Linked DNA regions of Homo sapiens. The protein of the gene in region 2 interacts with the protein of the main gene of each other region in a pairwise test. Each region holds a gene or a part of one and is shown on either strand. Other genes may lie near its edges. The genes, in order: PAX9, PLAGL2, ZNF564 and FAM90A1.

Region 1 (7,349 bases), on a different chromosome or scaffold from region 2:
TAAGACAAAACTGGGCTCTTGTAAACTTGCAGTCAGAAAACAAGAAGATGAGAAATCAGAGCCCTGCTTTAATTACTTAAAAAGATAATTGTGCCAATGTGGTGGCAACCAAGAAAGGCAGGAAGTAATTAAAGAAACTATTTCCCCCTTTCCTATTTAATTTTTCCTCTACACTTTTAAAACTTTAGGCTGAGAAATTAAGAAAGTGGACTATCTACACATTATTTAAATTCTGCATCTAGGTCATTCAGACTTTCTTTTCTCCCTACCAAGAAAAAAGTTAACGCCTTAAAAAAAAAAAAAAAAACTCAGTAAAAGAAAACAAACTCAGGTCTCCTGCGGAAGCCGGACTGGGCAGGAGGGCTCGGGGAATCCTTCTGACAAGGCAGAAAGGACGCTTAGGACTAGGCAAGGTCAGGGGTGAGAAAGGAAAGAAACAGTGGGGTGGCACTGCTTAAAACATGCAGGAACTAGATAGATATCCACTTGCATTCTCGGGGACCCGGGGACCCGGGGACCCCAAAGGAAAGTGGCAGGCTCAGGGAAAACTGAAAAGAACAGTAAAAGGACAGCATGGAATTGCCTGCATTTTATCTCCATCACTGCAGTGGCTGATGCCACTTCCCTTCCTAAGATATATACAGTGAAGTCTGTTAAGTTAGAAAGTGAATGGAGAGAGAAAGAGAGAGAGAGAGAATGTGAATATGACTTCGTCTGGGAATGAGTTACATGCAAGTTACTAGTAGTAACTTCGGGACCTCCATTTCCGAGGAAAATGAAGTGAAGCATAAGAACGAAACCAATTAGGTGACATTTGAACTTCCTGCCTGAGCAAATTTGGCCTGATTACCAGAATCGGAGAATACTTCAATTTCCAAGGCGTGCTGGACTCCTCCCGGCCAGACTTCTCCCGGCCGTAGTGATCCCCAAGCAAGCTGCTCTGCCCACAGCGGAGTCTGCAGCCGGCAGCCCCAAGCAGGCTCGGGCCTCCCGGGCTGCGCCCCAAGTCCAGCCCCGGCCGCACTCTCCAAGTGAGCAAGCCGGGCTGAGGCTGCCTCGGCGCGAGAGGCGGGGGAGGGTGGAAAATGCGAACCATGTGTTGGGGATGGGGGGATGTTATGGGTCTGGTAGTTTGAGATGAGGCAGAAGACTGTGTGTGGCAAGGAAACCAGGGGCATGAGTTTCAAGTTAATGAGATCAGAACACCCCCTAGGAAGACTCCTTACGTTTCCAAAGGAAAAAGCCTCAGGTGGTGGGAAAGACAGTGTCCCTGAGGCTGCAGATACTGGGACCTCCGCGAGAGTGCGGGGGCAGACGCTGCACATCCACACGCCCAGCCTCTGAGCCCCTACCTTGGTCGGTGATGGAGCGGATGCCCAGGATGTCGGTGACGGAGTGCGAGGAGGGCCAGGTGCGCGGCATGGCCACCGAACCGGGGATGGCAGGCACCCCGGGTGGCGTGGGCACCTTGGCGGCCGCCGCCGTGATAGGGCTGGGGTACGAGTAGATGTGGTTGTAGGGCAGCGCTGGCTGCGGCGTCGGCTGGTGCTGCTTGTATGAGTCGTAATGACCCTGCTGGGCCAAGTTGCCGATCTTGTTGCGCAGAATGCGGCTGATGGAGCTCACGGAGGGCACATTGTACTTGTCGCACACGCCGTCCGCCAGCAGGCGGTCCCGGATCTCCCAGGCGAAGATGCCGGGGTCTCTCTGCTTGTAGGTCCGGATGTGTTTCACCACGGTGGGGGTAGTGACCCGGGGCTTGCTGCCCCCGATGGCTCCTGGCAAGATCGAGCCCGTCTCGTTGTATCGCGCCAGGATCTTGCTGACGCAGCCGTGCGAGACCCGTAGCTGGCGGCTGATGTCACACGGTCGGATGCCCAGTTGGGCCAGTTCCACGATGCGAAGCCGGATGGCGTTGGGCAGCGGCCTCCCGTTCACGAACACTCCTCCCAGCTGGTTCACCTCCCCGAAGGCTGGCTCTGCAAAATGAACACACAGCGCGCAGGGACGCGCACCCGCTGCTTGGGACAGCTGCCTGCCACTGGGCCTCCCTACGCATCCGGGGACTGGGCGAACGCACCCGTCCCCTACTAACTACTGGGGCTGTCCCCAAACCATATGGTCCCTGAACATAGCCGAACGGCCCCAAACCGTCACTGTCCAATCGGACCCCCTCCCTCATTCCTGCCGTGCCGGAGGCCCCTACGGCCAAGTAAAGTGGTGAGATGCCGGGCCTCTCCGAGCGTTCAAAAGTCTCCCGAAGCAGGGGGAGAAATCGGTCTTGACGCCTGAACGTGCTCCTTCTCGCCTGCTCCTCACTAAAGTCCTTGAGCCGCTCCCTCTCTCCACCCATCCCATCCCCAGCGTTCCTTCTGGAGACCCGGCCAGTTAAACAAAGTCTAGGGGAAGCTAGAGGGTGTTTTATTTGTTGTTGTTTGTTTTCTTTTCTTTTCTTTTCCTGTTTTGTTTGCATGTGTGCGCGCGTGTGAAACAAAACTTGGTTTGCTACTCGGGCTGAGGGGCTCGCTGATGCCACAGCTCCCTTCTCTTAAAATCAGAAAATGGCATCAACAGCCACCCAGTAGCCAGCGTTCACATTGAACTGCTGTGCGCCGCTGACCCTTAGCGTGTTCCTACAACTTGTAGGAACACGAGCAAAGTCAATAGAGAATGTGAGCGCCTAGTGGCGCGCGCCCTCGCGCTCCCTCCCTCCCTCCCTCCCTTGCCCGCTCGCTCCCTCCCTCCCTTCCCGGCTCTGACAGAGTCCCCCGCCGCCACTCACCCATTGCTCCGAGCAGTACACCAACCCGGCCCCAGTTCCGCACTCCCAGACAGAAACTTTCCGCACCGCCTCAGTGGCCCGGCCTGTTGCTATCCCGGCCGACCGCCGGCGCCTCCGCTTCTTCCCAGGAGGAGGAGGCGAGAGGGCAAAAGGAAGAAGTAAAAGGAAGTCTGTGCCCCGATGAAAGAGGCTTGAGTTCTGCATTTCAATCTAAGCAGCAACGTGGGCTGGGCTGAGCAGGGCAGGGCGGCTCCGTCTATCACTCACTGGGGACACGCCCTAAAAGGGGCGGGTCCGAGGGCAAGCTGCATGGTGATTGGTGCGGGTCGGTGAGCGACAGCGCAGTCCAGGAAACTCCTTCCGCTGTCTCTTTCAGGCTAGCTCCCCACCTGGGTGACTAAATACAATGAAAATGGGTGTTTGACATCTTCCCAGAAGCGGCACAAAAAGACAGCAAAATCAGGCTGGTAAAATGCTGAATAAACAAATGAAAGCGTTTGGTCTGAATGTGAATGACTCGAAGGGAGAAGGGGCCCGAGGAGACCTCCTCCGGGGAACGATGGACATCTCAGAATTGAAGTTAAGGCTATAGGTGGGAGGCGGGCGCCACCGTGCACAGGGGTGAGGGAGTTGTCTTAGCAAAATCTGTCATGCGGGCCTCTGGGGACTGTCAGGAGAGGATCTGTGTCACCTGCCGATTCTACCTCACTTCAGTCCATGCCAGGTGGCGAGAGCGCAGGTGTGAGAAGATAGGCCGGCCAAAGAAACCAGGAGGTTGCGGGGAGCCCGAGCCACAGGTGGGGGCCACTGTTAAGGCCAGGGAGGTTCCTCCTACCGCCAGCTTCCTGCGGCGACCCCCCAGTCCAGGTGGACCGGCCAACCACTAGCCACACAGGCTCGAGGCACGGGCCACGCCGTGTGCGGGGAACTGAACCACAGGCGGCTAACGCTAGCGCACAGCCCCAAGTCGACCAATTGCCAGTGCGTGGGGCACTCACTACGGAGCCCAAGGCTCTGCCACATTCAGCCACTGTCCTGGGCCCCTGGCCCTCGGTGGCAGCGTTTGTGAGGGTTCTCCAAACCAGCGAGCCCTCTCGAAAGAGTTTTGTTTAAATATGAAAGAGACTTAGTCCCAAGACAGTGGACACCGACGCTGCACATGGATGTAATTCCCTCGTCTTCCATTAAGCTCCAGAGGCCCTGTCGTTCTGCCTACTTCTGAATTTTCACTTTTATTCACTGTAAGTCTAATCTAAAGTGTACCGTATGCTTTTTTGCAGCCAAAGTTATTAATATTTGCAGTTAGGGTTGTGGAGAATGTGAATCAAAATAATAAACAAGAAGAGAAATATTTTCGTGAATTTGGGAGTTTGTACTGCTTGGGGTCGTGAACTCTGTTACTGCTACTTGACAATCCAGAAGGCTCCTTGTGCACACAGGATTCAGGCTGCTTCCCCAACAGTCCCCAGGGATGTGTGTGGCTGCGGTCTACACCCAGAGAAGCTGACTGGTCCCAGATCTCAGGTCAGTAAGTTGCAAGAACCCAGGAAAAAACTATGATCAGCCATGCTTCTGCAAAGGAACAGATCTCCAGATTCCCACTTCTATGGTTAGGATGCACTCTAAATTCAAAATTACCTAACAGAATGGAGGATGTGAAAGGTAAAGATGAACTAAAACACCACTCTTTAGAATCGGAATCTTGGGGGAAATCCCACAACTAGACATACTTGAACTTGTCCCTTTTTGTTGGTTGGTTTCAAATGTTTAAAATCTTCTTGAAGTTTGACTTGATAGCAATTTCAGCCTGGTCTGACCTCCAATACCTGTTGGGTGACATCGTGTGGCACCGCCTGGCATTTTTACACAAGGAGAGCCTTCGGAAATCTAAAGATTTTAGAAGCAGCAGCTCCTTCTTAAGGCTGGTAGATAAATTAGTTGAGACTTTGCCGCATCGTAGGGGAGCTTATGACTCTGCCTTAGGCTTGCGGGAGGGAATGAACATGCCCGGCAACTTGACCAGGAAGGAATCCTCCTCCCCCCTCACAGACAGGCAGTGAGTATCGACCTCTGCGCCAAATCTGCTCTACTTCCGTGCACCCAGGGAAAATTTGCAGTCTGCAGGGCTGCTAGGCGGGTACAAGGATGTTCGCATACGAACAGGCAAGACCTCATGTCCCGCGGGGGGTCTGGGGACTCTGCGAGAGCTTTAGCAGTTCTGCAGCACCAGCCTAGACTGGTTCAGAAACTGATATGGTTTAGAGCTCTGGTTATATGGAGGTAACATACAACTCCCTCTTGTTCCTACCAACTCCTTCAGCTGCCACACATCTTCCCAGTTCTCACATAGGTTCAATGCCATCTCTCCCTTTCCACCTGCTGAACTTGGCTGTGACCATGTGGCCTCAGCTGCTGCGGATCCCCTGGGCGTGCCAGGGGTAGCAACTCAGTGGGCAGGGGGCCTGTCCGCAGCTCTGGCGGCTCCCCGCAGGCCCCACTCATGCCGGCGGTTGCAGGTACTGGGTGCTCTTGGCATTCTCAAGAGCGCAGGAAGAGTCAATTTTAGGTGTTTTGGGCCACTAAGTATCCGCGGCAAGCCGAAGACCCCGCTCTGGGAGCAAGAGAAGCCGAAGCTGCAGACAGGGTCAGCGGGATCCCAGCAGAAGAGGGTGATGCTGAAGCCTTCCCGGGGCGCGGACCGAGTGCTAGGGCGAGGTAGTCAGCGACCCGCTGAGACCGACCGAGAGACGACGGATCTGAGGCAGAGAAAGAGGATGAAGGAAGGAAAAGAGAGAACACTAAGGTCTGGTCAGTCCCGATGAATGTAAGGATGCAGGACCTAGAACAAGAACAAGGGTCAGCTGGAGTCTGCCGCCTGGTTACACTGCTCACTCTGGACTCAGAAGATCTCAAAGAGATCGGAAGAATTTCGACTAAAAGGAGAAATTTAAGACCAAAACCAAAACACCAGTAAGGCCTGCAGCTGGCTCAGGCCAGGGAGAAGCCAAAAAGCCTTTCCCTAGCCGCGTCGAGGCCTCCTCCGAGGGGCGACTCGCTCTCTGGATAAATATTTACTCAGTGGGAGACTGGAAGCCGGGCCGAGAGTGTGAAGGAGGGGGCTACACTGGGTGGGAGGAACCAGTACACTCGGCGCTGGCCGGATCCTTGTGTACACCCGCCCAAGGGGAGCAGGGGCCGGGGACTCTGGGGGCGACTCGGCCCAGGCGTGTGGCTGGGGAAGCTTTAGACCCCAGCATCGGATCGACCGGACTCCGCCCTGCCCTCGCGGACCCCAGCCAGATGCTGTGAAGTCTCCATAAATCTGTCAGCCGTCCCAGTGCCGCGGGCAGTCACCTGCGGCGCCCCCTTCCCGGCGCTAGAGCGGCCCGCGGAGAGACGCGGAGAAGCAACGGGAATCTAGCCCGGCAGACTGTACCCGAGGGCTGCCGAAGTCAGACCCAAGCACTACAGGTTGTGCGGAACGCGAGGACCCCTCCCTGTATCCCCAACCTGGACCGACCCCCGGAAGCCTGCTCCTCCGGGTCTACAGGTCAGTGATGACTGTGGATGGGAGGATAGGGCGAGAGTTGGGGGTGCGTATGCACGGGAGAGAGGTTGTTCTATTCCGAGTTGCAGTTATGACAAGCAGAGCTAGCAGAAAATATTAAGGAGCTGATTCCTCCAACTTGCCCCCTGCTGGGGACAGGACCCCCCCCCCCCAAGCGAGGCCCAGGCGACGGTGCCCGCCTCTTGTCCACTCGGAGGAGTTGCAGGGATTGTAAGACAGCCAGAGTCCGAGGTCCGGGACTGGGATTTTCATAGTGCATTGACTTCTAGCCGTCTGGGGGCAAATGCAGTAAAGGCAAGACCCTTCAGGGTCAGTTGGGGCATTGCGCGCGGTGCAGAGAGAAAAACAAGCCCAGCTTCTCCAGAACTCGGCCCTCTGCTATGTCCCCGTCTTGCAGGGTAAGCGGCCAGCTGAGTTTCCCTGAAACTGCAGCGGCAAGTGACAGCCAGAAGCTCGCCCCGCGCCCAGGGCGAGGGAGGGTCCGCCCTGGACCGCTGGCCCCTGCAGGATCTGCGCTGCGGGAGGGGATGGCGGCTAAAAGGAGCAGTCGCGGGGATTGGGGATGGAGACAGCCCTCAGGGGTCCTCTGGTGGGAGAGGAGGACAGGAGGCGCCCGCACACTGACCTGCGGCCTGGACTTGGAGGGACTGCGGACGCGCTAGCCCAAGGAGAAGCCGCAAGCGCACGGAGAGGAGCAGAGCTCGGCCGGAAGATGCTCGGAGAATAGCCCGGCAGCCTCTCCACCTTCTCATCAAGGAGCCTCACGGTTCAAGAGTCTCTCCGCGGCTCCACTAGGTAGCTAGAATGGCAGCGGGTTGGGTCGGGCCCGAGCTCGGAAATGCGTCCCGGCGTTCTGCGGTCCGACAGCGACACGACCGGAGCCCTGCGGGAGGTGGGATCAGCCCCACGGGCTGCGAGCGCTCGTCGCCCGCTTTCTCCTTGCGAGAGCAGGGGAGGGGCCTGTTGCTGTCTGAAACCCGCTTTTAATTCTCCGCCTGC
Region 2 (7,614 bases):
CAGAAGGCCTGTTCCTTCAGACTTGTCCTTCCTCAGCAAAACTGTGAAAGAATTCTACTTCTCTTTCAAAGCTGCTCTTCTGGTCTCACATTTTAATCTTAACAACTATAGACTATAGAGAAGCTGACAGAACCTGTTTCCATAAAACAAACACAATCCTTCCCAGTTACTGGCACAACTCAGTATATTTTCAGCCTAAGATTCTTTCTAGTGCCTGATCTGAAAGGGGAAAGAACCTTGGACTTGCTATCAGAAGAGCTGCCACTTACTGGCTGGGAAACCATAGGCAGGTTACTTTATTTCTCTGAACCTCAGTTTCCTCAATTTCTAAAATACGGATTTATTTTCCTTACCTGTAAGATTCGTATAGAGGATTAAATGAAATAATACTCTTGAAAGTGGCTGATACAAAATGTGTGCTCTGAATACATGCAGTGCCTTCTCTGAGGTCTCGGCTGTGTCTGCCTCTTTTTCCGCATGAGGCCTGAATAGTACTTCTTTTTTTCCTCTTTAATGTTACTTCTCAGGCCTCAGAGTGAGTTTCCTTCCTTTCCCAACATCTCCCCCAGAATGCAGTCTTCCCCTTTTCCCTCACAACTAACCCTCGGCACATCCCCTTTAAAGAGCCCCTTACTTTACCTCCCTCCAGGCACCATCTCCTGGGCCAGAGTTCTCTCTTAAGCAGAGAGCCACTTTCCTATACTCTCTTGTATTATTAGGGCTCCATATCCCAAACAGGAATGCTTGCTAAAAACTCTGTATGGTCCTCTTTGAAAGCTGAAACTGAGACATATTTCTCCCCAGTCTGTCCGTCCCCTGTTATGGGCCATGATGCCTGCTGCTCTCTGATGAAACTATAGTTTTTATGGTGTTACATCATCTCTATAGAAACTGCGTTCTTTCTCCATTATTAGCCTGTTTCCTCATCTGTAAAGCTAAAAATACTTACCTCACAGGCTTGCTGTAAGGATTATTTTAGTGAGGTATGCAAAGGGCTCAGCACAGAGCTTGGCCTGCTAGAAGTACCCAACAAAAGAGAGCTATTATCTTTGTCTTTGTATTGAGTTGCATGTTTCCACCTTCTGCTGCCACACTCAAATTCTCCTCACTCCCCCCTAAAAAACAGTTGAGAGATAACACCCCTGCACAAGGAAAGGGTTAATCTTTGAGTGTTCTTAACTAAAGAGACCCACAGAGGATTAACAGCTCCACTTCAGTGACTACCCTAAAATAGCTTTTATCCTCCTGCCCAAGAGTTACTTGGGGATCTGAAGAACTCAATTCAACACCTGCCGGAGGAAATAGACCCAGAACGTTCCTTGGGATAGAATCTTCCCTTAAGCAGAACCCAAAATAGCAACTGGGAAATTATAAATAGACTTAGAGGAAAGAAAAAACAAAACAAAACAAAACAAAAAACAGATCCTGATCTCAGAACCAGAAACAAATCCTAAAACACACTGGTTGGCTGGAAAACAGTGAGAAGAGGGGAAATGGGAATGCTGTCGCCCCCTTCCCCCCCGCCCACTCCAGAGTGGTGGGAGAATTAAATTACAGGGAGGCTGGAGAGTCTCAATGACTTGCACCATTCCAAGAAACATCAAACAGGATTAACAGGGGTTGGATTTACTCTCAGGCTGCTAATTCTTCTGTCAGTGTAGATGGGCCCTCTTTGGAGTCTCTTTGATTCACTATTTCCTCAGATTCCTGCTGCCTCCCACTCCTGGGGAGGCCTTGAACAAATGGCTGCAACTCATCACAACCCCATTTTCATGGGGAGAAAACGTGATTCGACACCCCCGCTCCCAATCTGGTGGCCTCACCTTAGGAGAGAAAGGTTAGAAACCCAAGACCAGACTCTACACACAGTCCCATGGCTGACAGGTGGAAAAACACACAAGCCAGGAGACAGGCTAAGCTTGCAGGTGAAAGCACCGATTCCCCCACACAGGTGTCCCCATATCCTCCACCTAACAGGCCCCTTTCTCCCCACCAAGGTGGGCCACAGCCTGGTCCCAGGCCAACTTTTAGATCACCCCACTGTGGTGTGGGAAAGGTTCAATTCCCCGAGCCTGGGAGAGATGGGAGTGGATGAGGGCTGGAGAAGCAAAGGAAATCCAGGGAGAAGTCTGGAGGGAGTCTCTGGGATGGGAAGGAAGAGCGAGGATGGGAAGGAATCATGAGCAACTTTCCTGGGTCTCTAAGGGATCCCCACAAGAATGAAATGGGGGATTATAAGGGCTGGAAGGCTGGGGGGATGGGGATAGTCAGAAGTGTATCCTCTGAATTTCAAGAGGGTCTCAAAATGGGTAACGGGATGGAAGATGTCGAAAGCCTGGGAGTATGGCCACTGAGGAGGGAACTACAGGTGGGGCTTATTCGACTTCTCCAGACCCAGATATTTGAGGGAAGCCTCAAAGGGAGTTATGTAAGTCTGGAAAATGAAACAGGGTACAGAGCGGGCTATCTGGAGCAGGAAAGGGGGTTATGTGGGTCTGGGTAGGCGTGTCGGAGGGAGGGAGCAGGTGCAGCTTATCTGCGTCCCCCAGACCCGGGTCCCTGGTAAGGTCAGCAGCGCCTTATCTGGGTCTCCAGGGAGCCTAGGGGTCGGGAATGGGGGACCCTCAGGACTGCGTCTCCAGGTCTCGGAAGGGAGGGGACCGGTGGCTTCCTCGGGTCCCCCAGACACAGGTATGGGGTCCAGGGAGAGTTTTCGTCACCCCAGGGCCTATCTGGGGCCGGGTTGGCGCAGACCGGGCCCCGGGTCGGGGGTGTGGGCGACCGCGCTGAGGGGCCCGAGATGAGGCGCGCCGCCGCTCCGGGTACAGGGCGCGCGGACGCAGCGAGACGGCCTCCCGCCCCTCTCCCCGCCGTCCCCTGGGGCCCTCGCCGGCACTCACCGCGCTCGGGGCCCCACGCTGCGGGCCGGGCCGCGCTCGGGCTCCGCCAGGCCCCCTCAGGCCCCGGTAGTGGCGGCGGTCGGGCCATTGTGCGGTGCATTGTGGGAGCCGCGCGAGCGGGCGCTCGGGTCGTGGAGGGGGCGGTGCCGCGGGATCTCTATGGTCCCGCCCGCCCGCGGGCTAGAGCGGCCGGGGCGGTGCGCGGGCGGCGCGCAGGGACCGCTGGGAGCGGGGCGGGCGCTCGCGTCCCTCCTTCCCTCCCCGACTGTGCGCCGCGGCTGGCTCGGGTTCCCGGGCCGACATGGGCGCCGCCGCGTGGGCACGGCCGCTGAGCGTGTCTTTCCTGCTGCTGCTTCTGCCGCTCCCGGGGATGCCTGCGGGCTCCTGGGACCCGGCCGGTTACCTGCTCTACTGCCCCTGCATGGGTAAGGCCTCCCAAGCCCTCTGCTCAGATGGAGAAACTGAGGCCGGGAGAGGAAAAGCCACTCCTCAGATGCGCCCAGAGACACCTTCACAGGTCCAGGAGAGAACCTCAGAGCGGGACGGGGCATGCTCTTCTCCTCTCTGCCTTAGTTGCAAGGGCACAGAGGGGCCAACGTGTCCAACTTTCCATTTGACAGATGAGAAAACTGAGGCTGGGAGAGGTTACGTGACTTGCTTGAGGTCTAAGCCAGTCCAGGGTCCAGTAAATGGAGTTAGTGGGGCAGGACTTGATGTCACTGACCCACGCTGGCTCCTGGTGATTTTTCATTGATTCAGCAAATATTTATGGGGCACCTATTCTGTGCCGGGCCCTGTTCTCTGTACTGGGAATACCGCAGTGAATAAGATAAACTCCGTGTCCTTGTAGAGCCTTCATTTTAGTTGGGGAAGACAAACAATTGAGAATAAGTAGGCCAGGCGCGGTGGCTCACTTCTGTAATCCCACCACTTTGAGAGACCGAGGCAGGATCACTTGAAGCCAGGAGCTCGAGATCAGCCTAGGCAACATAGTGAAAATCCAATCTCAAAAAAAAAAAAAAAAAAAAAAAGCAGAGCGTGGTATCGTGTGCTTGTAGTCCCTTGGGAGTTATCTGGGCGGCTACTTGGGAGGCTGAGGTGGGAGGATCTCTTGAGCCGAGGAATTCGAGGCTGCAGTGAGCTCTGATCGTGCCACCGCACTGCCAGCCTGGGTGACAGAGTGAGACCCTGTCTCGAAACAAGCAAACCCAAAAAGGGGTAAACATAAAACAATAAATACATAGTTTCATAGAGGATGATGAATACTAAGGGAAAATAAAGAGAGCAGGGTAGGGGAGAATCTAAAGACCATGCCAGGTGCACAGTTGAAATGGGTATGGTGGATCATCATTGTGGAAGTGGATGATCTTAAGGCCCCCAGTGGCTTCCAGACTCCTGACCATGACTTTCAGGGCCCTGAATGATGTGGCCTCCACTGGCCATCTCCACAACTCCCTTCTCTGCTGATCCTCCAGCTGCAGCCACACTTAACTCCTTTGCGTTCCTCACACATGCTCAGGTCTTCCAGTCTGCACTGCTGCAGGTGGCGGTCCCTATGCCTGGAATCCTCTCCTCCATTTCTGCCTGACCAGCTGTTTCCCATCCTTTAGATCTCAGCCTAAATGTCACCAGAAAGGATTTCACTGACCTCTACCCAAGTAATCTCCTCATTACCCTATCACCAAACTTTTTTCATCTCTTTCTGGCAATTATCAACATTTTTCATGTATTTGTTTACATGTTTAGTGTCTCTGCAGTGAACTGTGAGTGCCTTAGGGGCAGAGGCCTTGTCCTTCTTGTTCATTCCTGTATCCCAGCACCTAGCACAGAGTCTGGCACATTGTGGCCTCTCAATCATATTTGTGAAATGAATGAACAGGTGCCATGCTGGGATTAAGAAAAGGAATCACACAGGGTCCTTGCTTCTGAGGCATTCACAGGCTGAGGAATCAGCCAGTACGAAGGCCAGGAAGTGAGCAAAGATACTTGAGGAAAATTGAAGAACTGAAGTAGCTCAGAGCCAAGGTGGGAGGTAAAGGAGGGAGAGTGAGTATGGCAGGGGATTGGTGAAAGGAGCCCAGTGAATGAGGCATTCGAGTTGCCCGTCCATGTGCAGGTGAATGGAGATAGAGGTAGAAGCTCTTCTGGCTGAGGGACAGCAAGATCAGAGGCATTGGGTGGGGATGGGAATTGTAGAGCATGTTGGGGAAACAGCAAGAAACCTGGAGTGGCGGAAGCAGTTGTTGCAGGACCTGAAGAGCCTTGGATATCAGACCCAAGAGTCCAGACTTGTTCTTATGCTGCCAGCTCCCCTAGTTCTCCTTGGTATCCCTGACTTTCTACCCCTGGCTCCACAACCTTTCTGAGCCCTGCATGCTCTATGCCCTCCATGCCCCAGGCCTCACCTCACCCGCAATGTACCATTTCCAGGGCGCTTTGGGAACCAGGCCGATCACTTCTTGGGCTCTCTGGCATTTGCAAAGCTGCTAAACCGTACCTTGGCTGTCCCTCCTTGGATTGAGTACCAGCATCACAAGCCTCCTTTCACCAACGTGAGTACTTCCCACTGACCTTGGCCTTTCTCCGCCCTTTCTCAGTCTTGCTTACTTACACTTAACCCTCAAGTCCTCTGGGCTTTACCTCCCACTCCTCTGAGATTTCCCTACCTCCAGCCAGAACTGTCTTCACTGCAATAACAATGCCTAACATTTATTTATCCAGCACCTGTTGTGTGCGGCTGCATGAGAATTAGCTCATTTCACCCTCATCACTTGCCTGTGAGGAAACCGGGGTTTACAGAGGTTAGGTAACTTGCCCAAGATCACACAGCCTGTGAGTAGGAGAGCTGGAATTCAAAGCTATCTTTGTCTGACTCCAGAGCCTGTGACTTGAACCTAAAGCCTCCATTTCCTTCCCTGATTGGTCCTACCCTCTGTGCATTCCATTGGCCAAGGGTGGCAGATGCTATTATCAATTTTAAAGGAGACATGCAGGCACAGGTTATTTAATGACATGTCCAAGGCCACAACCCAGGTAGTCTGGCTTCAGTGCTGCCTCTCACCCCATCAAGGGGCTCCCTTGTCATGCGATGCTCACCGGCCCCCAGTTCCTTGCTTATTCTTTGTGTCTTCCAGTGACCTTGTGTCGTTGTTCATATTGTATCTCCCGGAGCCTGGCAGTAGGAACTTAATTAGTATTTGATGAATTGACTTAATAATTTTCCAATAGACATCAGAAATAATACTTAGTGTGAACAAAACACTTAATTTCATTCTTACAACCTTTTCTCTGCATAGATTTTACTTTTTCCTTTGCATGCCAGTATTTACAGAGGTTTTGAGCAGCAGTCAAAAGCCAGAGTACCAGAGATCATAGTCTGACTTGGGTTCTTACTAGTTGCATGGCCTGGACAGGGTACTTTACCTCTTTGTGCCTCAGTGTCCTCATTTTAAAAATAAGCTGGTAATGATTCTTGTTACCCTCTTGTGGTAAGGACTGAATGTGTCAGTGGCAGTAACACGCCTTCAGTGTTGTCATATGCCGCCTCCCTCTTAGAATCAACTGAGCTTATCAACGTACAGATCCTAGAGTCCTCAGTTAATGGAAACCATTGATGTTCTGATAATTTCGCACTCACTATTTTTTTTTTTTTGAGATGGAGTCTTGCTCTCTTGCCAGGCTGGAGTGCAGTGGCACGATCTCAGCTCACTGCAACTTCTGCCTCCCGGGTTCAAGCGATTCTCCTGCCTCAGCCTCCTGATTAACTGGGACTACAGGCGCACCACCACGCCCAGCTAATTTTTGTATTTTTAGTAGAGACAGGGTTTCACCATGTTGGCCAGGATGGTGTCAATCTCTTGACCTCATGATGTGCCTGCCTTGGCCTCCCAAAGTGCTGGGATTATAGGCATAAGCCACTGCGCCTGGCCTCGCACTCACTATTACAGTGTAGACATTGCCCATCCATCTCCCTCTGGCTTGCTTGCCTCTGTCTCCTTGCCTTCTCAGCCAGTTGTCTTTCCAAGTCCCCACTTCCTTGCTTTCTGTGGCTTACTAACCTGCTCCAACAAGGCTCTTCTTCGCCACTGTTAGCATTCTCACTGAGGTCACCAGTGACCTCCAAATTGGCAGGGGTTATTTCCCAGTCTTTCTCTCACCTGACCTCCCACTGGCACTTGACCCTGCAAGCTTCTCCTTCCTGAACTTCCCTGTTCCAAGACACCACCTGTCCCTGCTACAATCTAACCTCTCAGCATTTTCCTCTTTCCACTGTATCAGGGGCTCCTTTCTCTCCACCCACTGTTTAGATGTTAGTGTTTCTCCTCTTTCTGTTTGCTTACTAGCTATGTGACCTCAGATGTTATCTAGATTCTGTATGCTTGGGTTTCTTCATAAGTAACCTGGAGATGGTTATATTCCTACCTCAGGATTAAATGTGCAAATCTATGTAAAGTGATGAGTGCAGTACCTAGCACTGTGTCAACATGCAATAAATATTAGTTGCTATTATTACCATTACTTGCTTTGCTATAAATATCTGTTGACTCCTGTGGCTTTTACTCTTCTCCGTGTACCTCCCAAATTTATCTGTGGCCCAGACTCAGACTCCTCCATAATTACAGGCCTGTGTTTCTTTTTTCTTTTTTTTTTTGAGACGAGGTCTCACTGTTGCCCAGGGTGAAGTGCAGTGGCATGATCATCGCTCACTGCAGCC
Region 3 (7,020 bases), on a different chromosome or scaffold from region 2:
TGTATCTGAAATAAACTTGGGCGATCAAAGGCTTTCCCACATTCCTGACATTTATATGGTCCATCTCCAGTGTGCTTAATCATGTGTCTTCGAACACTTGGGAGAGAAATGAAGGCTTTCCCACATTCCGGACATGCATAGGGTTTCTCACCAGTGTGAGTTCTTTCATGTCTTCGAAAGGATTGACAAGAACTGAAGGCTTTCCCACACTGCTTACATTTATATGGTTTCTCTCCATATTCCTGATAGTCATATGGTTTGTGTCCAAGGTGAGATCTGATGTGCCTACTAAGGGATGAATGATGCATGAAGACTTTCCCACACAAACTACATTCACATGGTCTTACTATAGTAGGAATTTTCTTGTTCAGATTAAGATTGAGAATCTGACTGAAGGCTTCTCCACATTGATCATATTCTTTACTTTCACTGAGTCCCTCTTCCATATGATTTCTGGAAAAAATAGAAAGCAAGATTTAGTGGTTTGTGACTTTATATTTATTAATAGGTATTCGACTTACATTTTTACCATAATCGCGGAAAGGGTAAGTTTTCAGGCCTGTATGAATTGTTTGAAAGTGAATGGATGGAATGCTCTGCAAGAGAGCTTGACAGTAGCTATCACCAAAAAAGTGATATCCATATATACAGTTTCTTAATACTATTTCCAAGTGAATGATTTTGCAACACTGAACATCTATGCCACTTTTTCTTTTTCTGGTGAAAAAGTTGTAGGAATAAATAAATCTGAAGCTGGGCTTACTGGTTTGTTTACTTATTTTTAAAATTTCATGACATACTAAGAAGGAGACATTGCTTTATCTTGTCAGTGCAAATTACCTTAAAATTCTCCCCTGATTTTTGTACCAATCTTCAATGCTCTGGTCTTCCCATTTTTTTCCTAAAATATAGTCAGAAAAAATCCTTATGAACTGATAGACATTACAGAAAAATGACTAGATTCTAAGTTCATGATAAGGTGCAAACAACCCTGATTTATTCACCCAAGTATTCCCTTTTCCACATTAGACATCATGAAAAAGCATTAAAAAGCAAGAAATACTTCTTCTCTAACTGACTAAAAGAAGGAATGATGTCATCCTTACCTACACAGGCCAGGTTTCTAAAGGTTTCCCGCATCACATCTCTGTAGAGTTTCTTCTGGGAAGGATCCAGCAAAGCCCACTCCTCAAGTGTGAAGTTCACAGCCACATCCTCAGAGGCCACTGAGTCCTAAAACATCCCAAATATGCAATGCAGGAGGAAGAATGAGATGACAGTACAGGGATGTAAACCCAATTCATAAAAGTTCACAAATGGCTAGGTGTGGTGGCTCATGCCTGTAATCCCAGCACTTTGGGAGGCCAAGGCATACAGATCACCTGAGGTCAGGAACTTGAGGCCAGCCCGGTCAACATGGTGAAACCCCATCTCTACTACAGATATATGAATTAGCTGGGCGTGGTGGCGTATGCCTGTTAATCCCGGCTACTCAGGAGGCTGAGGCAGGGGAATCGCTTAAACAAGGGAGGCAGAGGTTACGGTGAACCAAGATCACGCCACTGCACTTCAGCCTGGCTGACAGAGAGAGACCCCATCTCAAACAAACAAACAAAAAACAAAACAAAAAAGTCGACAAAACGATGTGGCAGTCTCCAAACATTTATTTTATGATAAATAAATATGGTTGTCAGAATTCCGTCTACATTCACTTTCTCATAAATTTAATTACCCCATGAAAACATGCAACTGATCTCTACATTTTTACTGTAGTCACTACAAGTTTTATTGGTCTCTAATGGCAGGATCCAGTTCACCTTGGAGAAACAAATAAAATGCTATACAAAGAAAACAAATTTTGGCCAGGCCTGGTGGCTCACACCTGTAATCCCAGCACTTTGGGAGGCTGAGGCAAGAGGATCACAAGGTCAGGAGTTTGAGACCAGCCTGACCAACACAGTGAAACCCCGTCTCTACCAAAAATACAAAAAAATTAGCCGGGCATGGTGGCATGCACCTGTAATCCCAGCTACTCGGGGGGCTGAAGCAGGAGAATAGCTTGAACCCAGGAAGCGGAGGTTGCAGTGAGCTGAGATCATGCCATTGCACTCCAGCCTGGAGGACAGAGAGAGACTAAGTCTCAAAAAAAAAAAATTTAAGATCATCATTCCTACCAGGAAAAACTTCCATTTCCTTTCATATCTCACACCAATCAGCATTCCATGAAACACAGGGTAGGCCAGGCGCACTGGCTCATGCCTGTAATCCCAACACTTTGGGAGGCAGAGGCAGGCGGATCACCTGAGATCAGGAGTTTGAGACCAGCCAGCCCAACATGGCAAAACCCTGTCTCTACTAAAAATACAAAAAATTCACTGGGCGTGGTGGTGGGCACCTGTAATACCAGCTACTTGGGAGGCTGAGGAAGGAGAATCGCTTGAGACCAGGAGGCGGACGTTGCAGTGAGTAGAGATTGTGCCACTGCACTCCAGCCTGGGTGACAAGAGCAAAACTCTGTCTCAAAAAAAAAAAAAAAAAGAAAGAAAGAAAGAAAAAAAGAAACACAGGATAAAAACTGAAAAAGGTATCCATGAATAAATAAATATACACTGAAGAAGTGAAACCATTTTCTTCTGTTCCCTTCATCAAACATGAGAGGCCAGAAGGCCCGTAGAAATCCACGTTCTGACAAAATCCAGCTGACCACACTTTCCTGAAGGATTCCAGGCCATCAGACGTAGACAGATCAAGTTGGTTGAAAGAAAATATTCCTCTGCAAAAGAAGTCATTTTAACCTGCATGTATAACATTTGTTATAGACTCACTGATTCCTTTGACTCTGTCCCATTTCACTAGGCTAGGAAGCTACTGGGAAGACAGAACTCAGGCATGAAGAAGAAGGTATGGCAACTTAGGCAGCGCCCCCTCACCCAGCAAAATCCCCAGTCATGAACGTCAAGGGCAGTTTCCCACCTATTTTTACCTTACATACACAAACATACTAAGAAGACAAAATGCCAGAAGAGTTTTTTCTGGCAGATACATAACAAGGTACCCTATGACTTGCTAACCTTGAGGAACAGGTTAAGAGTTGCAATTTCTGAGGGATTTCATTCAAGTCCAGATGGTTTGATGGTGAATTTGACCATGATTATAAAATACACGAAGGGATCAGCAGTGCTTTTCTCCAAAAGAACATAAAATCCTCTTTCTCAAATTTCAAGAGGAAATGATTCCTGACCAGTCACTATGTGATACTACATTGTGTAATGTCAAGGCAAAATAAAATAAGGGGAAAGATGGGTTCTTTTGGTTTTCTTAGAAATGGGAACTTGCTCCGTCATCCACACTGGAGTGCAGTGGCATGATCACAGCTCACTGAAGCCTTGATCTCCTGGGCTCATGTGATCCTCCCTCCTGAGTCTCTCAAGTAGCTAGAACTATAGTCGCAAGACACCATGTCTAGCTAATTTTTAAATTTTTTGTAGAGATGGGGTCTTACTTTGTTGCTCAAGCTGATCTCAAATTCCTGCCTCAGCCTCCCAAAGTGCTGGGATTACAGGTGTAAACCACCACACCTGGCTGGAAAGATGGGTTCTGAGAAAGAATGAAATGTCCTCAAGATAGCCTCTTACAAAATATTTTTTAAATTCTATAAATCCCCTAAAAACTGTTGAAGAGTCAACAAAAAGTTCTTCTCCAAATGTAGCAGGAATAATGAATATCTAACAATGGTCAAAGTCTTCTGAAGAACAACATGATAGCTTCCCTAACCTTTAACAAGAATTCTGAATGCTGGCCAGGTATGGTGGCTCATGTCTGTAATCCCAGCACTTTGGGAGCCTGAGGCAGGCAGATCACTTGAGTTCACTTGAGTCAGGATCATTTGAGTTAGGAGTTTGAGTCTGACCTGGGAAACACGGCGAAACCTCGTCTCTACTAAAAATACAAAAATTAGCCAAGCATGTTGACGCGCACCTGTTACCCCAGCTACCTGGGAGGCCGAGGCAGGAGAATCACTTGAACCTGGGAGGTGGAAAGTGCAGTGAGCCGAGATTGTGCCACTGCACTCCAGCCTGGGTGGCAAGACTCTGTCTCCAAAAAAAATAAAAAAAAAAATAGGAGAACCATGGTAGGCACTGAGGAAAAAAGACCACATATCTTTCTTACAATACCACAGAAGGCCACAACCCAGGCCAGGAACAAAGGCTCACTAACAAATCATATGATTACAAAATATGTCACACCTCAGGTAAAATGCTCAATTAAAGCCCAAGAAGGAAGGTCAGAGACAAAAAAAGAAACAAAAGCAAGGGCAACTAATAGAAAAAAGTAAAAAATATGGTAGATATTAATACAACTGTATCAATAATCACTTTGAATGTCAATAGTCCAAATATAATTAGAAGACAGATGCTGTTATAGTGGATTTTAAAAACATAGTATGTTGGCTAAAAGGAAACCACTTTAAATACAAAGACACACATATTAAAAGTAAAGGGATAGGGAAATATATAAAATGCTAACATTAATTAAAAGAAACATGGCATGGCTATCTTAATATCACAAAGTACACTTCAGAGAAAGGAAAAAACACAGAGATAAGCCAGGTGCAGTGGCACATGCCTATGGTCCCAGCTACTTAGGAGGCTGAGATGGAGGATCACCTGAGACCAGGAGTTCAAGGATATAATGCGCTATAATTTATTGTGAATAGACCCTGCACTCCAGCCTGGGGAACAGCGAGACCTTCATCTCTATAAAAAAAATTTAAAAAAAAAAATTTTTTTGGCCGGGCGCGGTGGCTCACACCTGTAATCCCAGCACTTTGGGAGGCCAAGGCGGGCGGATCACGAGGTCAGGAGATTGAGACCATCCTGGCTAACACGGTGAAACCCCGTCTCTACTAAAAATACAAAAAATTAGCCGGGCGTGGTAGCAGGCGCCTGTAGTCCCAGCTACTCGGGAGGCTGAGGCAGGAGAATGGCGTGAACCCGGAAGGCGGAGCTTGCAGTGAGCCGAGATCGCGCCACTGCACTCCAGCCTGGGCGACAGAGCGAGACTCCGTCTCAAAAAAAAAAAAAAAAAAAAAAAAAAAATTTTTTTTTTAATTAACCAGTTGGGGTATCACAAACTTGCAGTCAGCTACTTGAGAAGCTGAGGCAGGTAGATTGCTGCAGCCTGGGAGTTCAAGGCTGCAAAGAGCTATATGATCACACCACTGCATTCCAGCCTGGGAGACACAGTGAGACTCTGTCTCTAAAAAAAATAAATTAAATTTTTAAAATAAATAAAGAGATATAAGTGAGCATCACATAATGATAAAGGACTCAACATGCCAAGAAAACCTGACAACCCTTAGTGTGTGTTTGCATAACAAGCGTTGCAAAATACATGTGGCAAAATACAACTGATAGAACTGCAAAGAAAAAATACACTAATCTACTTGTATAGTTGGAGACTGCAGCACCCCTCCAGCAGTAATTAAGAGATCCAACAGGCAGAAAATCTGAAAGGACATAGTAAAGTAAATAGCATCATCAAACAACTGGATTTAATTGAAATGCATGGAATACTTCATCTAACAATAGCAAAACACAAATTCTTCTCAAGTTCACAGGAATATTCACAAAAATAAACCAAATACTGGGGCATAAAACACACCTTAATATGAAAAATTTTAAAAAATCATACAAAGTATGCTCAGACCACAAGTCATTCATCTAGAAATCAATAACAGAGATAGTTACCAACTCCCCCAAATCTTTAGAGATTAAACAACACAATTCTAAATAAGCACATGGATCAAAGAAGTCTGAGAAATCAAAAATAATTTTTGACCTAAAATGAAAATGAAAACAAAATTTATCAAAAATTAGGGTATGCAGCAAAAGCAGTGCATAGAGGAATATTTACAGCATTGAACACCTACACCAGGAAAGAACAAGGGTTTATAATGAATCATCTAAGAGTCTACTTCGGGCTGGGTGCAGTGGCTCACGCCTATAATCCCAGCAATTTGGGAGGCCAAGGCGGGCAGATTACTTGAGGCCAGGAATTGGAGACCAGCCTGGACAACATGGTAAAACCTCGTCTCTACTAAAAATACAAAAATTAGCTGGGTGTGGTGGCGCATGCCTGTAATCCCAGCTACTCAGTAGGCTGAGATACAAGAATCACTTGAACCTGGGAGATGGAGGTTACAGTGAGCCAAGATCATGCCACTGCACTCCAGCCTGGGCGACACAGCAGGCTGCTGTCTCCAAAAAAAAAAAAAAAAAAAAAAACAGAAAAAAGAAAAGAGTCTACTTCAGGAAAACAGAAAAACAAGAGAGCAAATTAAACCCAAGTAAGCAGACAGACAGACAGAATAATTGGAGAAGTCAATGAAATGGCAGGAAATCAATAGAGATTAAAAAAAAAAAACAGAAGTCGGTTATTGGAGAACACCAATAAAACTGATAAACCTCTAGTCATGGTAAGAAAAAAGAAATTACTAAGATCAGAAATGAAAGGAGGCAAAAGTAAAAACTAAAGAACATTTGACAAAATCTACCATCCACTCACGGTGGCAAACTGGGAATAGAGAACTTCCTCCTCAGAAAGAACATCAATGAGGAACCTGCAGCTAACATCATACTTAACAGTGAGAAACTAGATGCTTTCTACACAAGACCAGAAACAGGGTAAGAATGTCTTCTCTCACCACTACTATTCAACAACATCCTTAAAGTCCTAGATAAGCAACAAGACAGAGGAAATAAAAAGTATATCGATTTAGAAGGAAGAAATAAAATTGTCTTTGCTGCATAAGACATGATTATATAAAATATATAGATGGCATATAAACATATGAAAACATGCATATTTTGTCACTGGGGAATTACAAATTTAAAAATTAAAGACTAACACAACCTTTATTAGAATGGCTAAAATTTAAAACACTGAGAACACCAAATGATGGCAAAGATGTGAAGCAATAGGAACCCTCATTTGTTACTTGTGGGAATGGAAAACAGT
Region 4 (7,665 bases), on a different chromosome or scaffold from region 2:
AATCCAACCCAGTCTCTGAGGACCGTGTGACACCCCGTCCCCCCGCCCCCACCCCCACCCCAATACCCAAGAGATCCAGGGCTAGACTTACCCTGGGATCTTCTTCATCGGGCGGGGGAGCCCTTGGCCCAACTGGGGCCCTCCGCTGCTTCTGGAGGGTCTGGGCTCTCACCAGTCTCTTTGCCCCAGGTTTGGGGTCACGACGTGCCATCATCTTCGTCTCCTGGGGGTTTTATGACCGCCTTTTTCAGGGGTTGATTGTCGGGTCACCTGAAACACACACAAACACACACAAGTCGATGGTTAAGCACATTGGATATTCACACACCCACAGGAAGCCCCCCGCTAATTCCTTGCCGGTGTGGTCATGAGGAGACCTCACCACCAGTCGGTCAAATCTGTGGAACACAATGTGCTGTGTGCATCCTCAGATATTGTGTGTTCCTCTGCCATGATTACCTAGTCCAAGAGTAAACCTCGCCTGCCACAGGGCCCGTGGCCTAGGTATGGGGAGTTGAGCTTTCAACCCCAAACTAACAACTGATTCTGGAGACTGGACTTAGGTCTATCACGATTCACTCCGGTAGAAGACACGATGACTCTATCTCCCTTGACCGACAGAATGATCGAAGCCACAGGGCATGGCGTGTGTCACCCTTTGGCAGGTCTGTTTGAAATCTGGGATAAGGGATGCCTCCTGTCACAACTTGAATCGCTACTCTTGCCGTTTCATTAGGCAACTTCCAAACACAAATTCATAGAGAGAAGTTATCTTCCTCTCTACCACACTAGCAGGTGATGGTCTTTCCTGTTCTATCTTTTTGGCTTTAGCTCCAGCCCCTCTTTATTTATTTTTCTGGTATTTTACGCATGCCACACGAATTCATCTAAACGAACGGTGAACAAGTGCCATATCGTATCAATGTCTTACACGGCTGAAGGGCAAACCACCCTTTTTTCCAAAGTCCTTTTTCCATTTACCCACCAATTCAGCATGCTGCAGTACATTTCTTTTCGCATTCCCACCTTGGTCTTATCCCACACATGGAGACGGAAATGCTTTCTCGTTTTCTGTTCCAAGAATTACTAGTAACGAGAGCACACCCTACCGCATCAGCAAGCCCCAGTGTGATCGCTTTCTTTCGGCCTCCTTTGTCTCTTTTCCCCCCCACCCCTCAGGGATTGCGTGAAACAAACAACTGTTCAGTGAAACTAACCTGAAATTACACGTCTACTTTCTTTCCCCGGCTGGCGCTGAGATGGGCAGGTGCTGGAGCAGCCCCGCTGGAAGCGATGCAGCATCCAGGAAGACGGAGGAAGGGGCAGAGAGGGACCTCTGCTTTCCAGGCTGCCTTTTATACTGCCTCTGGTCACCTGACGTGGAACGTACCCTAACCTAATCAGTTACATGTAGGTTAATTACAATTAACTTAATCCAATTACATGACTCGGAAAGGTCTATCTGCACAGCCCACTCTAAGATCATGTCCACTGCTGACAGACATTCTAAAACCTACGTGTACAGCTGCAAGCTTTGAAGAATAGATGTTCCCCGTCAGATATGTAACACTGGTGCCTGTACCCCTGTCTTCTTTTCCATCTTTTTTGTTTTTGTGTTTTGTTTTGTTTTAAAAAATGTGGTAAAATAGACACCTTTTAATTGGACCATATTTACTCTATCTCGACGTAGGCCTCCGTGTCATCATGGAGATTCTCCTTGACATGCAGTCACGGCCATGATCCATCTTCAGAGCTTCTCTTTCTTCCCCACGGTAGGTCTGTCAGCAGAGAACCCTGACCACACACTCATGTGTTTTCTCCTCCAGAATGCGCTTGGAAACCACCGTGAATTGGAGCGCACTGGGAAACACAGATGAAGAAAGTCAACACCGCTTTGTCCTTCAGTGCCTGGCTCCCTTTTCAGCTGGTCTTGAGACTCCAGGCATTGGAGTCCAGGGAGGGGCACGCCGCCTTTACCTTGTGCTTCCCACGATCTTGTCTCCTTAATCCCCACTGCAGCTCTCTGCCATAGGGTCTTATACTGCTTTACATGTGGGAAACTGAAGCTCAGAGGGTTTCACAGCAGGGCAGGGAGCCCAGATGTGAATCTGTACATACCAAGCTTTCTAATTTTTCAGTAGTTTCCAAGCATCTTTTTTTTTTTCTTGTTTCTTCATTGATGTCTTTTTTTTTTTTTTTTTTTTTTTTTGAGACACAGTCTCTGTCGCCCAGGCTGGGGTGCAGTGGTGTGATCTCAGCTCACTGCAACCTCCGCGTCTCACAGTCAAGCAATTCTCATGCCTCAGCCTCCCGAGTAGCTGGGACTACAGGTGCCCACTACACCCAGCTTATTTTGGTATTTTTAGTAGAAACAGGGTTTCACCATGTTGGCCAGGCTGGTCTTGAACTCCTGACCTCAGGTGATCCACCTGCCTTGGCCTCCCAATATGCTGGAATTATTGATATGAGCCATTGTGCCCGGTCATGTCATTGTTGCCTTAACCAAGCCTCTTTTAATTTTTCAAACGGAAGAGCCCCTGTCCCTCAGTTACTGCTGCTGAGCCCTTTCAAGATGACTCAGTGAGGAGGGGGAAAAGCAGAAGCGGTGTGGGAAGAGGCGGGGTCTGGGCCAGCTGCTGGTCCTGCTCTCCTCCCTCCTTTGGCCTCTAGGCTCCCAGGAGTGGTTTGGAACCTGCGCCGTGTGCTCTGGGGGCTGTGGCAGGGCAGGGGCGGCTTGGAACCTGCGCCATGTGATCTGGGGGCTGTGTCAGGGCAGCGGGAGTCCTCGTGTCCCCTGCGCACAACACAGACAGAAGGCTGGGTCCACCCAGTGGGCGGTCGGGTGCCAGGCCAGTGCTTACCCCGCCATGTTTTCAAGCCCGAGGCCAGCTGGCTGCAGGTGCAGGGCTATGCGTCAGGGGTCAGGGTGCACACATCCCTGCAGGTCTCGGGGCTCCTGGGTTGCTTCTGGAAGGGCCCGGATGGGGCCTGACTGGAGCTGCCGAGGGGTGGAGCTTCTGGGAAAAGGATCCCTCCTAGGGGGAGTGTCTTGGGCCTGGGGCCACGTGGCACGGAGAGAGACGGGTCCATGGCAGTGTCTGCTTTTCTCTGTGAAGGCAAAGGGCCTCTGAGGGAGTATTACAGCCGCCTCATCCACCAGAAGCATTTCCAGCACATCCAGGTCTGCACCCCCTGGCTGGAGGGCCGAGGACTACCCCCGCTTCTAGGTGAGAGGCCAGCAGGAGGCTCAGGGAGGACGCGGGGCCTTAAGCAGGGGGAACAGGGGTGGGCAGGATGTACTTTTTTCAGAAAAGGTGGCTCTGGAGGCCACTTGGGGACAGGACCTGGGCTCTAGCTGAACTCCCGGGAGGAGGCTACTTCCTGGTGTGCCAGCCCCTCCCTGCCAGGTGGCCCCAGAGGCCCTTTACCAAGGGGTTTGAGGAGGCCACGTCCTTTCAGTCTGCCACGCCCTCCATTCAGTCCTCTTCCTTCCTGCAGGAGGGCTGGGCCTGGGGTTGGGGCCACTGTTGCCCAGGTGTGGGAGGGCAGTGGCTTTGGGAGGTACAGGGACGATGTGTCAAACAGCGTCGCCTCTCCCAGTGCGATGGTTCTCCTTTGCCTCCGTCTCTTTCCGCGTTGATTTCTCCAAGTGGGGAGTCGTGGCTTGGTCCTGATGCGTCTCTAGAGCCGCATCTTCCAGCTTCGAGTGAGCAGAGCAGTTGGAGTCTGAGGGCCTTTTCCTGGCAGGATTCTCCAGCTAGTCTTTGTTTTAGACAGTCTTGCTCCGTTGCCTAGGCTGGAGTGCACGATCTCAGTTCATGCAACCTCCGCCTCCTGGGTTCAAGCGATTCACCCACCTCAGCCTCCCAAGTAGATTACAGGATTACAGGAGCCCGCCACAACACCTGGCTTATTTTTGTATTTTTAGCAGAGACAGGGTTTCACCATGTTGGCCAGGCTGGTCTTGAACTCCTGACCTCAAGTGATCCTCTCGCCTTGGCCTCCCTAAGTGCTGAGATTCCAGGCCTGACCCATCATGCCTAGCCCCAGCTAGTCTTTAGAAATGTTAAGCTATTTGGCTTTATTTTCACACTGACAGCTGGTTTGTGGTGGGTGTGATGTGGTTTATTATTATTATTATTATTATTATTATTATTTTGAGACGGAGTTTCGCTCTTGTTATTATTATTATTATTATTATTATTATTATTATTATTATTATTTTGAGACGGAGTTTCGCTCTTGTAGCCCAGGCTGGAGTGCAATGGCGCGATCTTGGCTCACTGCAACCTCTGCCTTCCCGGGTTCAAGCGATTCTCCTGCCTCAGCCTCCTGAGTAGCTGGGATTACAGGCACCTGCCACGAATTAGCTTCGCTAATTTTGTATTTTTTTTTAGTAGAGATGGGGTTTCACCATGTTGGCCGGGCTGGTCTTGAACTCCTGACCTCAGGTGATCCACCCGCCTTGGCCTCCCAAAATGCTGGGATTACAGGCGGGAGGTGAACCTGGGAGGTGAAGGTTGCAGGGAGCTGAGATTGTGCCACTGCACTCCAGCCTGGGTGACAGAGTGACACTCTGTCTCAAAACAAAACAAAACAACAACAACAAAAAACAAATTGTGGCTATGTAGAAAAAGTGTCAACTTACATTTTCAGATGTCCCACCCAGGCCGTGTGGCTGCTTGGCCACCTTAAGCCACTTGTGCTTGGGGTTGTCGGGGACCTTATCCAATTTTCACTCCCCTCGGGGGAAGTTGTCTCACTGTGCTGGGAGGATTTGTGTTCCCAGGGCAGAGACCAGCGCTCTGACCCACCCCTCTTGCCTAGCAGGGTTAGTGGACCTGGGTGTCTCTCTGGACACATCCTCCAGTGGCCTGGACCTGCCCATGAAGGTGGTGGACATGTTCAGGTGCTGTTTGCCTGCGTGTGCCGTGAACTTCAAGTGGTAGGAGCAGAACCCCAATCTTTCTGGGGATAGCTTCACAGATCCACCACTGAGGGGGAAGCAGTGCAGAGTGAGCTGCCCACAGTGAGGCCCTGCCCCTCGGTCAGTCCAGCACACACTGGAGGCCACGAGGAGGAGCCCTGCGGTTGCTGTGGCTGGGCTGAGCCTCACTGAAGTAGTTGCTTCCATTTAGAGCTCATGTTATATTTAGGTTGGTACAAAAGTAATCACGGTTTTTGCCATTAAAAATGGCAATTACTTTTGCACCAACCCAATATGAAAAAAAAAAGTACCTTAAATACAAGAACTCCACTCGGGGCTTTTGCTCCTAGAGTAGAATTGGCGGGAATTGCCTGCAGGCTTACATGGTTTTCTTTGTTTTTCTCTCCCACCATGTCCCTTTTGGCCAAGCTCACGTGCTGGGTTTGAACGAGTTAAATGAGTGTCATGCTGTGGCCTCACTGCACCCAGCATAGACGGGTGTTTGGAAGGGCGGCGTTAGAGGAGATTCTAGAAGCAGTAGCCCCAGCACAAGTTGAGCCCTTGGCCCCTGCTCAGGAGCCAGCTCCTGGATGGGATTCAGGGATGCGAGCCCCTCATGTGAGCTGAGCTCAGGGAATGTCGGGATCAAATCTGGTGTCCTAGAAAAGTCATCTTTTATGTGCTGAACCAGTCCCCAGGGGGTTGCCTTTACTTGTTCCATGGCCATGGAATTAAGAAAAACATGCAAAAATAATTCTTCAGTCCTTGAAGAGCATCCAGCACAGAAGGTACAAACCTTCCTTAAGGCTCTCTCCTCAAATCGATTTGGTCATTTTGATGTGCACCCCCCCCAGGCCTTTATACCCTTCAGATGCCAAATCTAAGAACCAGCTCCCAGAAACCACACCCCCTGTTCCAACCCCCAGCCTGGCTTGAGCGTGGGGTGGGTGGGAGCCCAGCTGGGCACCCCAGGGGTCTGGTGTCTTCCCCAGGCAGCTCTCAGGCTCCCTTGGTTCTCTCTGCAGTTTACATGAGCTGGTGAAACATAAAGAAAATGGCCTGGTCTTTGAGGACTCAGAGGAACTGGCAGCTCAGCTGCAGGTAGCCATGTCTGCCACCACGCCAGGGTGGACAGGGTTCTGGAGACTGACATCGAGCCACGCTCCCTGATCCCTGCTTCACACAGCCAGGGTGGGACCATGCAGGGTCTGGTGGAAAAGCTAGGGAGGGAGCAGAAGTCACAGAGGCTTCCTACTCTGCTGTCCTGTTTCGGTACAGTAGGCTCGGGAAAATTAGGACACACCCCCACCTGCCCTCTGGATTTATGGAGCTGAGACTCCACAAATGATGCTGGAGCCGGGTGGGCCGGGCTGCAGTTTAGGAAGTGATCAGGATCAGGTAGGTGCGTGGGCAGAGGGAACTTCTGGGATCAGCCTTGAAAGATGGGTGGAATTCTGCAAAGGTTACTTGTTTCTTATTGCAAAAAGTAATACACCATTCTTGTCAACAGAATGATTGGGAGGATTTTCAGTAAAGGTCCAGGTCAGAAGTCATTTAGACAGGGTCCCCCAGTCTCTGTCAGAACCATGGTACTCTGTTGTGGTGTGAAAGTAGCCACAGATCATCTGTAGATTAAGGGGTGTGGCTTTGTTCCAATAAAGCTTTATTTACAAACACAGGCTGTGGGCTGGCTTTGGCCTGCAGGCTGTAGTTTGTGATCCTTGATTCAGACAGTTTAGCAAGGCTGAAAAGAACACACACACCCGTTTGTTACCCACAGATGGGTGGGACTGTGTTGGCCAGAGGCCGAGAGGAGGGTGCTCACAGGGGAACGTACAGCATGTAGAGGCCGGAAGGTGCTCCAGGGCACCAAGTGTGGGAAAGTGGGACATACGGGGAAGTTTCCAGAAAGCATGATGTCACGTTGGAGGCGGAGCGCTGCTGGGTTGTGAAGGGTCTCAAGTCCAAGTGAGGGAGTTAGGGACTTGGGAGGGGTTGTTGTTGGGTCGGGGACCTGGGGTCAGCCAGGTGGTGACCTGGGATGAGATGGGGACAGGCAATGAGGTAAGCTCTGCTCTTTAGCATTTTGCAGATGCTTTTCTCAAACTCTCCTGATCCTGCAGGCAAGCTAAACCAGTTCCAGAAGAACCTGCGGGAGTCGCAGCAGCTCTGATGGGATGAGAGCTGGGTGCAGACTATGCTCCCTTTGGTTATGGACACATAACTCCTGGGCCAGAGGCTAAAACCCCAGGGCCCCTGCTGTCCTTCCCGCAGCTTCTTCTTGGAGTCTCAGGGCAAACCCTTTCGAGCAGCGCCTCCCAGTGGCCAGAAGCTGAAATGACGGCAGTGGTGCCACCTGGTGAATGACCCGGGAAGCTGTGGTGGGCCCTGATTTCTTCTTTGGAGTCTCTGAAACGCTTCCTGTCTTCTTCTGTTCTTCACGCCCCATGCCCCTGCTAGCGTATTACTGTTCTGTGACTTCCCTGTGACCTCTGCAGTACTCCTCATCCTGCATTTGGTATCCAGGTGTCACCTGTCTGCCGTGTTCCTAACACTTTGATTCCTGTCTTGAAAAAAGCACCTGCTGCACCATAAGCCCTGGGATGTGGCAGCTGCAGCGGGCTTGGCTTTCTGAGGAACCAAGTGTGTCCACGTTGGGGGAACGTCATACTTGATACACACGTTTTTATTTGCACAAAGAAAATGCTATTTTTGGAGCCAGAATTTTCATGTCTGAT

The links.
Region 1: the proteins of PLAGL2 (region 2) and PAX9 interact in binary tests that used the Homo sapiens proteins (3 or more experiments, as listed by UniProt).
Region 3: the proteins of PLAGL2 (region 2) and ZNF564 interact in binary tests that used the Homo sapiens proteins (3 or more experiments, as listed by UniProt).
Region 4: the proteins of PLAGL2 (region 2) and FAM90A1 interact in binary tests that used the Homo sapiens proteins (3 or more experiments, as listed by UniProt).

Annotation. Positions count from the first base shown.
Region 1 is NC_000014.9:36,657,527-36,664,875, reverse strand, and holds the start of PAX9 (paired box protein Pax-9), read right to left. Parts: upstream 3,017-7,349; 5' UTR 2,787-3,016; coding exon 2,783-2,786; intron 1,980-2,782; coding exon 1,353-1,979; intron 1-1,352. UniProt on the Homo sapiens protein: Transcription factor required for normal development of thymus, parathyroid glands, ultimobranchial bodies, teeth, skeletal elements of skull and larynx as well as distal limbs.
Region 2 is NC_000020.11:32,204,741-32,212,354, forward strand, and holds the start of PLAGL2 (zinc finger protein PLAGL2), read right to left. Parts: upstream 3,004-7,614; 5' UTR 2,901-3,003; intron 1,824-2,900; exon of another isoform or gene 1,556-1,823; intron 464-1,555; exon of another isoform or gene 354-463; intron 343-353; exon of another isoform or gene 1-342. Other genes in the region: POFUT1 (GDP-fucose protein O-fucosyltransferase 1 isoform 1 precursor), read left to right, coding at 3,202-3,325, 5,331-5,452. UniProt on the Homo sapiens protein: Shows weak transcriptional activatory activity.
Region 3 is NC_000019.10:12,527,464-12,534,483, forward strand, and holds part of ZNF564 (zinc finger protein 564), read right to left. Parts: intron 1,234-7,020; coding exon 1,107-1,233; intron 902-1,106; coding exon 841-901; intron 454-840; coding exon 1-453.
Region 4 is NC_000012.12:8,224,619-8,232,283, forward strand, and holds the start of FAM90A1 (protein FAM90A1), read right to left. Parts: upstream 3,001-7,665; 5' UTR 2,862-3,000; intron 1,861-2,861; 5' UTR 1,654-1,860; intron 1,397-1,653; exon of another isoform or gene 1,375-1,396; 5' UTR 1,218-1,374; intron 271-1,217; 5' UTR 215-270; coding exon 92-214; intron 1-91.